Homo sapiens: one gene and its partners. The protein of the gene in region 1 interacts with the protein of each later gene in a pairwise test. Each region holds a gene or a part of one and is shown in the gene's direction. Other genes may lie near its edges.

Region 1 (3,653 bases):
TTAGAGTGTGTTACATTTTTTAAAAGTAACAATATGGAAAGGGGGTTATATGAAAGTAGTTTTACCAGTTTAAAAAACAGGGGCACTGAAAAGGGAAAGTAATCACTCTGCCTGTGGAGCCCATTTTATTATAAGTGCCTGAAACTAAGTTATCCTGAATAAAATCTTGACTTTTCTTTTAGAATGTGGGTGAATAAAATATACATGCAGAGGTATTTTTGGTAGCCAGTGCTTCTTGGCTTTCGATCTGAGGTTTGTCGGAATCCTAAAATGATAGGGTACTAGTTGGCTTAAATTGAAATCTCAGATAGTCGGACCGATTGTGAGCACAGAAATGGCAATAATATTTAACATGCATCCGCTGTGGGCGATGGGTCATTGGTTTACTATGCAAACATAACAATTTGTCTCTTGAATGTGCAGAAGATACTTTAAAGTTCTCAATTTATTTGCCAACAATTAGGAGATATTTTATTAAAGGGGTATAAAATAGAAATACATAGCTTTGTACACTAAGTGCCAAGAATGTGCATGCTGAAAAAGAAAAAGCACACTTTTCTTGATTGTATTTAACACTGTGAAATTTAGATATTTATACTATAAGGACAGCATATTTGTGGAAGATTTTCCTTGTACATGATGAGGAATATCTAAAATATTTACCATGAATCAATACTGCTTTTATAATACAAAGTAAATCAGGCAATTTCATGCCTTCTTAAGGCATTTCTGATAACAAATCTATAGGTGAGAAGAAAATAAGTAGGGATATCTCTAATGGTACTTGTTAATATGCAATTCTAGCCATATGAACAGTACAGGTGTTGATGATTTTCTCTGGAGAGTAGATGGACGAGATGTACATAGTAACAACAGTGGTGGCAGTAATATTTATATAAAAGGTTGAACTTACTAGCAGGAGCAGCATGCCAGCTGTTGCCTGGAAAATAGCTTTACATTAGAGCAGTGAGGAATTCTTGGTTTCTTTCTCTCATTTTATCTCCCTTCCCCCATGTACTTCCCCAAAGTATTGCATTTTAATTTCTGTGATGAAAAATCAGTCCAGTGTGAAAATGGGAAAACAATGCTATGCCATTCATGAAGGTAGCTAAGTTGGAAAACACCAGCATGGAGTTTTTGCTGATGTGCTGGTGCCTGATGATGAGAGGGACCCCAGCTGGATTGTGAAGATTGTGGGCACACACAAAATTGATAAAATGCCTTCACTTAGTTTTTGACAGCTTTAATAGCTGACTCAGTCCAGCTGTAAGTAGTAAGTAAATAAGTAAGTTTCATTTACTACCATGCAAGTAAAATGGAAAAGCTCACTATAAATTTTAACTGCTAAATACTATTTATCATTTGTTCAATTCATTCATCACTAGGTATAAAGTTTATTTAATTATTCACGTATACACTCAGTCTTTCATTCAATAAATATTTACCGAATGTGCCAGTATGCAGTAAACATTTACTGAATGAAAAATTTAGGATATGATATATAGAGATGTACATCATGTACGATGAACAGTGGACAAGGTTGAAAAATGTACAGTGTACACGTACAGTGTAGCAGTGAACAAGGTTGATAAAGGCCCTGAGCTTGACAGATGAGACAGACAATAAACAAACTTGCCAACAGACATGCCAGTCACAGGTAGCTATAAGTGATGGGACAGGCATACACAGGGTGATGGGAGAAAATATGTGCACACACAGGGAAGAGTAGTGGGGAGAGGGGATACGACGGCGAGGTGGATCCTGGGTATAAGATGATTGGCGGAAGTCTTTCTAAGGCTGTAATAACTGAGGTGAGACCTGAAAGAATAAATGAGGGAGACTTTCAATGTGAAAGTGGTTTCACATAGTCAGTGGTGTCTGGTGGACTCAGAACTAAGGTGATTTTGCTTTGAATGATGTCATTTGTGTACAGTGATGATATTCCGAGTTGACCCAGGAGCTAACCAGTTACAAAAGACACTGGCTGGCCCTATTGGAGAGCCTTGGAGCACCCTGTTAGGTCAGTAGTAAGCCCTGAATTCCTGGGCTGTTGTGAGACCTCAGGGGAGGACCTGGGGCAGCTGGGTGGCACTCGGAGAGCTTGGGGACACAGCCATTTCTCTATTATGGTATGGAAATATTTCCCTGCTTACACAAGCAATGTGGCATGTGTGACAGCTTGTGTGTAATTCTCTGATCCAAGGAATTTTTATTAACCAATTGTAGTTACAGACCACCTTTATATTCTGGCCACTTCACGTAGTTTAGTGGAAAAAAGTAACCGTTGAATTCTGGTTTTCAATGTTGGCAGTCACATGATTTTACAGTCTGAGTCACATTTGGCGGAAGTACTCTTAGGAAATTGGGTTTTTTTCTCCCAAGAAGGTAATCAACCTAACTCTGTGTCTTTTATAGGCGGCATCACTGTCCACATCTCCCTACCAAGATTTATGATAAAACAGAGAAACCATGTCTTCTCTCCGAATATACCGAGAACTACCCTTTCTATCACTCCTACCTGCCCAGAGAGTCCTTCAAGCCAAGGCGGGAGTACCAGAAAGGGCCTATACCAATGGAAGGCCTGACTACATCAAGGTGAGGGCAAACAGTATTAATGTATGCAGGTACATACAACACTAATGGAGTAACATGCAGTGCTAATGTATAATATTAATGTAATGTGCAGTGCTAATGCATTAATGTGCAGTATCAACATATGATATTAATGCCTTAATGTACTATATCTCTGAAGGAATATCCTGCATTTATGAGCCTTCTCAGTTTTTTCCAAATTCTCTGTTAAAGAGAAAGGATTCTTGCTTGCTGAAGTAAAGGGTGGGGAAAGGCTGGATTAATCTATATAATATAGGATTGGAGGTTAAGAAAAATATTTAAGGGATGGAAAGAGTGGGGGATGTTGCTGAAAAGCAAGTTTTGGGCTTTGTTACATGAAAAGCTCCAGGCCAGCTTGGGTAGGTGGGGGATGGTGGTGGTGGTGGTGAAAGGGAACTTGGCAATAGAGAAAAAATGAGCTTTTTTTTCTCCCCTTAAAATTATGCTGCTGTAAATTTTGAATTGGGGTTCTCCTGAATGTTCTTCAAGAAAGATGAACAAATAATGTTTTGCTTTTAAATTATTCTTGACTCCCAAACTAAGATTGTTTAGCTCTAGGTCTGTGCAGAGGCTGAGCCACATGGTTCAGTATATTAGCGTTGCAGAGGTGTTTCTACTGAGGGGGTGCAGAAAAGTTATCAGTTCAGGGTTGGTCTATAAGCAAGGCTCTTGCAGAATCTGCCATGGACAACTCAGTTAGTGACCTGTGACTGGTGATCTAGTAGAGTGGAAACATCTTTGAGTGCAGTTGGGCAGTCTCAGATTGTATAGTTTTGTCCTTAGCTGAGCCCTGAAAGATTGATGTGTTCTCTGCCTTCCCGGTTCCTCATCCCTAAAGGGCAGGGTTGCTGTGAGGTGGAGATGATGGTGAATGTTGACTGTTCCAGCACAATGCTTGCACATCGGTGCCTCAGACCTGGTGACTTTTCTTCCTATTGCTCCCTTTTGCTTCATGATTTTGTGCTAGTAAAGGTCCCAGATGGTCTAGGTGAAGCAGAACCATTCTAATTCATTCTGCCTTCAGGTTTTCTCCAGAATAG
Region 2 (3,653 bases), on another chromosome or scaffold:
TGCCGCTCCTGGCCCCTCCCCGCAGGTGCCCGTGATCCGGAATGGTGGCTCCAACACCCTTAATTTCCAGTTCCACGACCCCGCGCCCAGGACTGTGTGCAATGGGGGCTACACACCAAGACGAGATGCTTCCCAGCACCCGGGTAGGTCTGCTCAGGAGCCTCATGCTGGAGATGGAGGGTCAGGGCCCTGCCATCTGGCACTGCCCTGTGTCAAGCGGGAGGGGCAGCAGCTGGAGATGGGGTTCTCAAGGCCATGAGGAGGTTCCTCAGAGGCCTCTGGGCTCACTATGAGCCCCTCCCTGCGGAGCCTGCTGACTCTGCAAGAGACACCCGCTTGGGGAGAGCAGGCTGATGCATCCCTTCCCCTGCCCTCCAGCCTGGTGCCAGGGAAAGGAAGCGTGCAGGAGCCCTGGGCGCCGGAGGACCTCCCACAGGGACTGGGGATGGAAGGGTGGAGGTGATGTGGGTATCTGTTGGCTTGGGAAGGGGTGGAGACTGTCCCATTCAGGCCCAACAGGCTACCCAGCAGGAGGTTAGAGAGGCAGTTCTAGATCCCAGTCCAGAGGTCCTGGGAACTCCTGGGTGCAGGCCAGCCCTGAACATGTCTCTCCTAAAGTGACATCCTTTATCAAGCATTCCCCTAAGACAGGTGCTGTGTAAAGGAATTTATTCATTTAACAATTATCCAGCCTGGGCAACATAGCAAGACCCTGTCTCTATCAGCCTGGATGACACAGCAAGACCCTGTCACTTAAAACACACACACACTGAGAGGCTGAGGTGTGTGGATGACCTGAGGTCAGGAGTTCGAGACCAGCCTGGCCAACATGGTGAAACCCCATCTCTAATAAAAATACAAAAATTTGCTGGGTGTGGTGGCGGGTGCCTGAAATCCCAGCTACTTGGGAGGTTGAGGCAGGAGAATCACTTGAACCTGGGAGGTGGAGGTTGCAGTGAGCTGAGATCGTGCCACTGCACTCCAGCCTGGGCAACAAGAGCAAAACTGTCTCAAAACAAAAACAAAAACAAAACAAAACCAAAAAAAACACCCACACAATTATGGAACACCCAGAGCGTGCTGGACACTGTAAAAACACTTTACGAGGCTCACCTCGTTTAACCCCTCGATATCCTGACAAAGTAGGGGTGATGATGACTGACAGCTTCCCAGTAAGGAACCCCATTCGCAGAGATGTTCAGCCATAGAGGCTGAGCTGCAATTCACACACTTGTACATCTGGCCTCAAAGCCCTTATTCTGCTGCCCTAGCTACTTAGAGGCTAACACTTATGGGTAAGTTGAGGACTCAGTCACAACCATGTCTGGGGAATGGGTTTCTGACCTTCACTGAGAGCCTCTCGACTGTGTGCCAGGCACTGTGCTGGGTACAGTCACACACGCTAGATGTCACTGAATCCTTGTCACAATGACCCTTGTTTTACAGAAGTGGAAACTGAGACACTGAGAAGGTGACTGATGTACCCCAGGCCATGGCAGCCAATAGGTGGTAGAGCTGGGGTCTGAATTCAAGTCTGTCCCCTCTAAGCCCAGCATCTTTACTGCCACACCCCAGCTGGGATGTCCCCTGCATTCTCTACAAGTAATGATTTCCAGACCTTATTCTGAAAGCACTTAGGATAGTCCCAGGAAAGAAGGATGGGGGTAGGGCCAGGCACGGCATTCTCAAGATCAAATCCATTTAAATTCACTTAAACAAACAGAGGCCCGTGGTGCTCTGAGTCATCCACTCAAACAAACAAGGCGATGTTGAAACTTTGAACCCACAGAGATCCATGCTCTGAGGAGCTAAGGGACACACAGGTTCAGGTGGAGACCCCTGCCTTTCACTAATGCTCTCCTGCACGCACCCAACAGACCCTGCGTGGTATCAGACCTGGCCAGGCCCTGGGAGCAAGCCCTCTGCAAGCACAAAGATCCCTGCCTCCCAGCACACCCAGAACTGGTCAGCCACGTGGACCAAGGACAGCAAGCGTCGGGACAAGCGCTGGGTCAAGTACGAGGGAATCGGGCCCGTGGACGAGAGCGGCATGCCCATTGCCCCCCGATCCGTGAGTCCAGGGCTGGGGGCCACGGAGAGATGGGGCCCAGGGATCTACAGGGAGCTGCACTTCTGTGCATTAAAATGGGGGTGGGGCAATAAAGGCCGCACCCAAACCATCCCAGATTAAGCAGGGGTTCAACCGTGGTGGGGTTCAGCGGCTGTAAACCTCATAAAGCTGCAGACACCCTCGTGTGCCTGAGTTGCTCAAGTGGTTTGTGCGGGGTACAGATCTAGAACTCTCATCAGGGCCTCAAAGGTAGAGAACCCCTGCTGTAAGGCCTGAGGCTGCAGGGGACCCTCTCTTAGTTTCATATCCCCAGGGCCTGTCACGACGCTCATGAAATGGTTGCTGAATGAATGACTGACCGGCCGAATGAGTGAGTGAGTCTTGTGTGAGAAGGTCTCTCACTGTGGCAAGCGTGGAAGGATCCGGGGGTCCAGTTAGGACTGGGGATACCCTGCCCTTTTCCATCCACCTTTGTGTCTTGAGCCAGCTCCATTTTCTCATCTGGAAATTGGAGCTGGTAACATTCCCTTCCTGTTTTGAGGCTGTTTTGAGGCTTGGATGAAGCAGGTGATGTGAAACACGCATCTCACTCCTACATTATTGCTGTCATTTTTGGCCCAGGTGCAGTGACTCACGCCTGTAATCCCAGCACTTTGGGAGGTCAAGGCGGGAGGATTGCTTGAAACCAAGAGTTCCAGACCAGCCTGGGCAACATAGTGAGACCCTGTCTCTATAAAAAAAAAAATAAAATAAAATTAGCTAGGCAAGGTGGTGCACGACTGTAGTTCCAGCTACTCAGGAGGCTGAGGCAGGATGATTGCTTGAGCCCAGGAATTGGAGGCTGCAGTGAGCTATGATCATGCCACTGCACTCCAGCCTGTGTGACACAGGAGACCCTGTCTCCCCACAAAAGAAAAATGTTCTTTGTAGAAACACTAGACATAAAGAAAAGCAAAGAGAAAAAATGTAAATTGCCCCAAATCTCATAACATCATTATTGCATACACTTCGATGGAGATCTTGTCATATATCTTACTTATATAGGACGTGTTACATGAAGCTATTGTTATTAAAGAGATCGCAAGAGAAGCATTTCCCAGCCCACCTATGGGGGGTTCAGGGATGGCCAGAGAAGGGACTCACTAGGGAAAGATTTTTGTGGCTTGAAATTGGGAGGGTGAATAAGCAGGGAGGACTGACTTTGCATTTTCTGATCCCAGAGCGTTGACAGACCCAGAGACTGGTACCGGAGAATGTTCCAGCAGATTCACCGGAAAATGCCAGGTAAGATACCCTTCCAGGGCCCTCTCCCTGCCAAAGTGGATTCTGGCCCCTGGGGCTTGGAGAGACAGGGAAAGAAAAGGGGACTTAGCTGCTCAAGGGGTTCTTCTCCACCTTCTCCCAGGCTCTAATGAGTAGTCCTGAAAATAGGCAGTCCCCTCCCTGTACTCGGGGCCAGCAGCGGTCTCCAGAGCATCCCCAAGAAGAACATTGACCAGCCACTGTCCCACAGTGTCCTCTGAGGGGACTGAGAAGCCATTCCTTTCCTTAAGTCCCTCTCTGATTTCCCTGCCAAGCTGGA
Region 3 (3,653 bases), on another chromosome or scaffold:
AGACAGAGGGTGATTGTGAGAATCTGCTTTTAATCACAATAGTTAGTTGATTTAAATATCGCATGTCCTGGGTACTCTGAAGCTTTAGTGTGATGAAAGGTTCACTTGAGTCTGTGGATCACTGAATCGTTGTCATCGTTAGAGGAAAAAGTGTTTTGGTAGGTTTTGGTAGGGGGAGTCAGCAAGGTGAAATGTGCAGGACTGTGTGCTGGTCCTGGCCAGCCCATGTGCAAATAGCTTCACTTTCTAAAGGGATATCAGAATGGTGCTTTGGGAGGAACTTGAATATTGTGGTGAAACACTCCTAAATTCAAATCTGAGCCATGCTGGGAATTTGGACAACTTCCTTACTGGACAACTTCCTCTAAGCCTCAGTTTCCTCATTTGCAGAGCGGGGATAGTAATATGCTTCTCACTAGTTGTTATAAGGGTGTTGATAAATGTGTACCTCAGAGCCAGGCCCACTCTCATGCCTCTAGCCTTATCTGCCTGAAGCCCGTCTTCCATACAAGTGTCAAATGATCATTCTGCAGCTTTTCATTTAACATGTGTTGTTTAATCAGTTTTTAAATGTGAAATATGTACATTTGAAAAACAGAATAGAAAGTTATAATGGGAAGAAAGTTTCTCATTTCCCACTATTTCTCTACTTGCCAGCATTGTGTATGTGCGTGTGTATGCGTGTGTGTGTGTTTACGTAGCTGGGCATTATGTGTTCTCTTCTTCAACTTGGTGTATTTCCTTTCTGTATCTTAGACATCTTTCCACATTGATACATAAAGTCCTTGCATTCTGTTGAATGGCCTTGTTGTACTTCTGTGCCATAATTTATTCAGTCCATCCACAGTGTGCATTTTAGATTACTTCTAGTTTTTTGCCTGTTACAAGAAGTGTTACAAACATGCTTGCACAAATATGTTTGGATACTTGTACACGTATTTGTCAGATACACTTAGAGAATTGTGTTTGCCAGTTTAGGATATGCAGTTAACATTTTTATTAGCCAGATCTATATTCCATCTAAAAAAATGTTTTACCACTTCTCAGCTCTCACTGACGTGTATGAAAGTGCCTGTTTCCTCATGCCTCGGTCGATACTGTGAACAAACTTGAGCTCAGGTCTTGCCTCCTCCAGGAAACCTCCTTGTAGCGTTCCCTCCCAGTTTTGAGTTGCTCATAGCCTGGAAGGGAGGCAGACCCTACAAAGGCTGTGACAGTGCAGCCTGGCGGGCGCTGCTGAGTGCACAAGTGGCAAGGAGGGAGCCCTGTGCTGGACGGATGGTGGCAGCACAGCCTGGGAGCTGAGGGGGAGGAACCAGCACCGGCTGGTGTGGGAAGTGGAGGCAGCGAATGCAGGCTTTAGTGTATTGCTAATGTGGTTTCATGAAGAATTCTTGTACTTCCCGATTTGTAAAACTGTTTTCTGAGCCCCAGTTGATGGTCCATTTTGTTGAAATATCATCTCAATAGAGTTGACTCATGAATAGCTAAATTACACACCTTCTCAGGTGGCCTTAAGTTTCTTTCTCTTGCTCTCACAAAGCCCAAACTTGACAGAGAAGGTGGCTTTAACAGGTTTTCACTTAGGTGACTTTTTTCTCCTGCATAATAAGGGTACCTTATTTTAATTTTATAATTATTTTAAATCTTTTTGTTTGTTTGTTTTTGAGATGGAGTCTCGCTGTGGCCCAGGCTGGAGTGGCACGATCTCAGCTCACTGCAATCTCCACCTCCCGGTTCAAATGATTCTCCTGCATCAGCCTCCCAAGTAGCTGGGATTACAGGCACGCACTACCACACCCGGCTAATTTTTGTATTTTTAGTAGAGATGGGGCTTCACCATGTTGGCCAGGCTGTTCTCAAACTCCTGACCTCAAGTGATTCCCCCACGTTGGCCTCCCAAAGTGCTGGGATTACAGGTGTGAGCCACCATGCCCGGACTATTTTAAATCTTGAGATGGAATTACAATTCTAAAACCTAATATGAGTGAATATACTCCCCAAATTTAAAAAAGTTAACCTAATATTGTCATAGTCCAAATATAGGTTGAAAGCAGTTATAGCAGGGAGAGTTGCAGAGTTGGTCAGCAGGGTTGAGATTGATCTGTCAGTCCCAACGTGGACACGGGGTCCTGAATGGGGGGTGGCTCTGTGCCATGAGGTAGTTAAGGAATCCAGCTGGTGGGCAGCTTTCCATCTACAGCATGTGACTTCCATCTCTGGGTCTGTGACAGCTGATCCCTCAGCCAGCAGCAAGGAAGAAAGATTGGAGGGCAAGCAGCTTTCTGTAAAGAAAAATAAAAGTGATCTGGAAGTTGCATACATCACTTCTACCCACATCTTATTAGTCAGAACTTGGTCATCTGGCCATACCTGGCTGCTGGGAAAGCTGCCAGGCGTCGTCTCTAGTTGGGCAGCCATTTATCTAGCAGGAAGGGGAAGGAAGGCTTCTCTTATGAAAGCGAGGAAGGGAGGGATGGATCCTGGAGCACCTCAGCGCCTGTGTCGCACCTCTGATGTTTTGACGGCTTCCACAGCCCTCAGGACTGAGGCCAGACGGCTCTGCGTGGCTTCTGGGGCTCATAGTGATCTGGCCTCCTTTTCTCTCTCCAGCTTCACTCGCCCTCTACCCAGCAAGTCCCTAGTGACTTGTCACATTCCGAATGTGCCTCCGCCTCTGCTGCTTCTCCTCCCATTCCCCCAAATCTTCTTCACCCTACTGGGTTTAGGACCCTTGGTGTGCAGGGCCTCCTCCTGAGTGTGCGCTCACTGAGGGCAGGCGAGTGTCCTGGCATGGTACCTCACCATCCACAGCGGGTGCTCAGTACATGCTTGCAAGTAACTGTGTTGCTGGTGTGTTGACGGCATAGCAGAGGAACAGCCACCCTCCGTAAAGCAGGTGGTAGTGGGTGCCTGCCTTTTTGCTGAGTTGTCTCTAATCCTTTGCACTTGTACCCCGCTAGCCAAGCTCAGCAGTTCGCTGTGTCTGGACACAGTCAGTTTGAGCTCTGTGGCTCTACTGTCCATCTCTGGCAAAAGAGTCTGAGGGCGGATGCCGCCTCCTCCTTGAAGCCGTCCTTGTCTTCTGCCCCTGCCAGTGGGTAGGATCTCTTTTGCCTTTTGATTTTGTTTACATTGTGCTTATGGCCCTTACCGCACTGTGACTTGTAATATAGATAATGGACTCACTGCTCGCGCTTCTCCCCCAAATAGTGAAGTACATGTTGTTTCAAGACTGGTTGCTAGCTGACTATGGCATATCTTTTGCTATACTTACCACTTTCGTGCATAAAGGTACCCCCTAAATGTTGAGTGGAATTGTTTCAGCCTCTTGCAAACTGTAAATAAGCTAATCTTTAGAAAGGATCTTCCTTTAGATATCAGTAAAATGGAGCAGCACTGTGGGGAATCAGATCAACAAAGGTTTATTGAATGCTCACAGTGCCCCAAAGACCAGCTTCCTGTCCTCCTGTCCTTGGAGTATGAGATGCCATGAGCAAGACAGACCTGCCTCGCACCTCCTATAGCTTAGAGCACAGTGACCTGCCAGCCTGGAGAGCTCCTGAGTCCCCTTCTCACAGCAGTGTGGGCTAGGCAGGTGTTCCAGCTCACTCAGCCCTAGATTGCTCCCAGGTAACACGGGACTGAGACTC

The links.
Region 2: the proteins of SAXO1 (region 1) and SORBS3 interact in binary tests that used the Homo sapiens proteins (3 or more experiments, as listed by UniProt).
Region 3: the proteins of SAXO1 (region 1) and MAPK9 interact in binary tests that used the Homo sapiens proteins (3 or more experiments, as listed by UniProt).

Annotation. Positions count from the first base shown.
Region 1 is NC_000009.12:18,949,700-18,953,352, reverse strand, and holds part of SAXO1 (stabilizer of axonemal microtubules 1), read left to right. Parts: intron 1-2,415; coding exon 2,416-2,595; intron 2,596-3,653. UniProt on the Homo sapiens protein: May play a role in the regulation of cilium length. Stabilizes microtubules at low temperature.
Region 2 is NC_000008.11:22,554,838-22,558,490, forward strand, and holds part of SORBS3 (vinexin), read left to right. Parts: intron 1-25; coding exon 26-143; intron 144-1,877; coding exon 1,878-2,071; intron 2,072-3,291; coding exon 3,292-3,355; intron 3,356-3,653. UniProt on the Homo sapiens protein: Vinexin alpha isoform promotes up-regulation of actin stress fiber formation. Vinexin beta isoform plays a role in cell spreading and enhances the activation of JNK/SAPK in response to EGF stimulation by using its third SH3 domain.
Region 3 is NC_000005.10:180,281,942-180,285,594, reverse strand, and holds part of MAPK9 (mitogen-activated protein kinase 9), read left to right. Parts: intron 1-3,653. UniProt on the Homo sapiens protein: Serine/threonine-protein kinase involved in various processes such as cell proliferation, differentiation, migration, transformation and programmed cell death.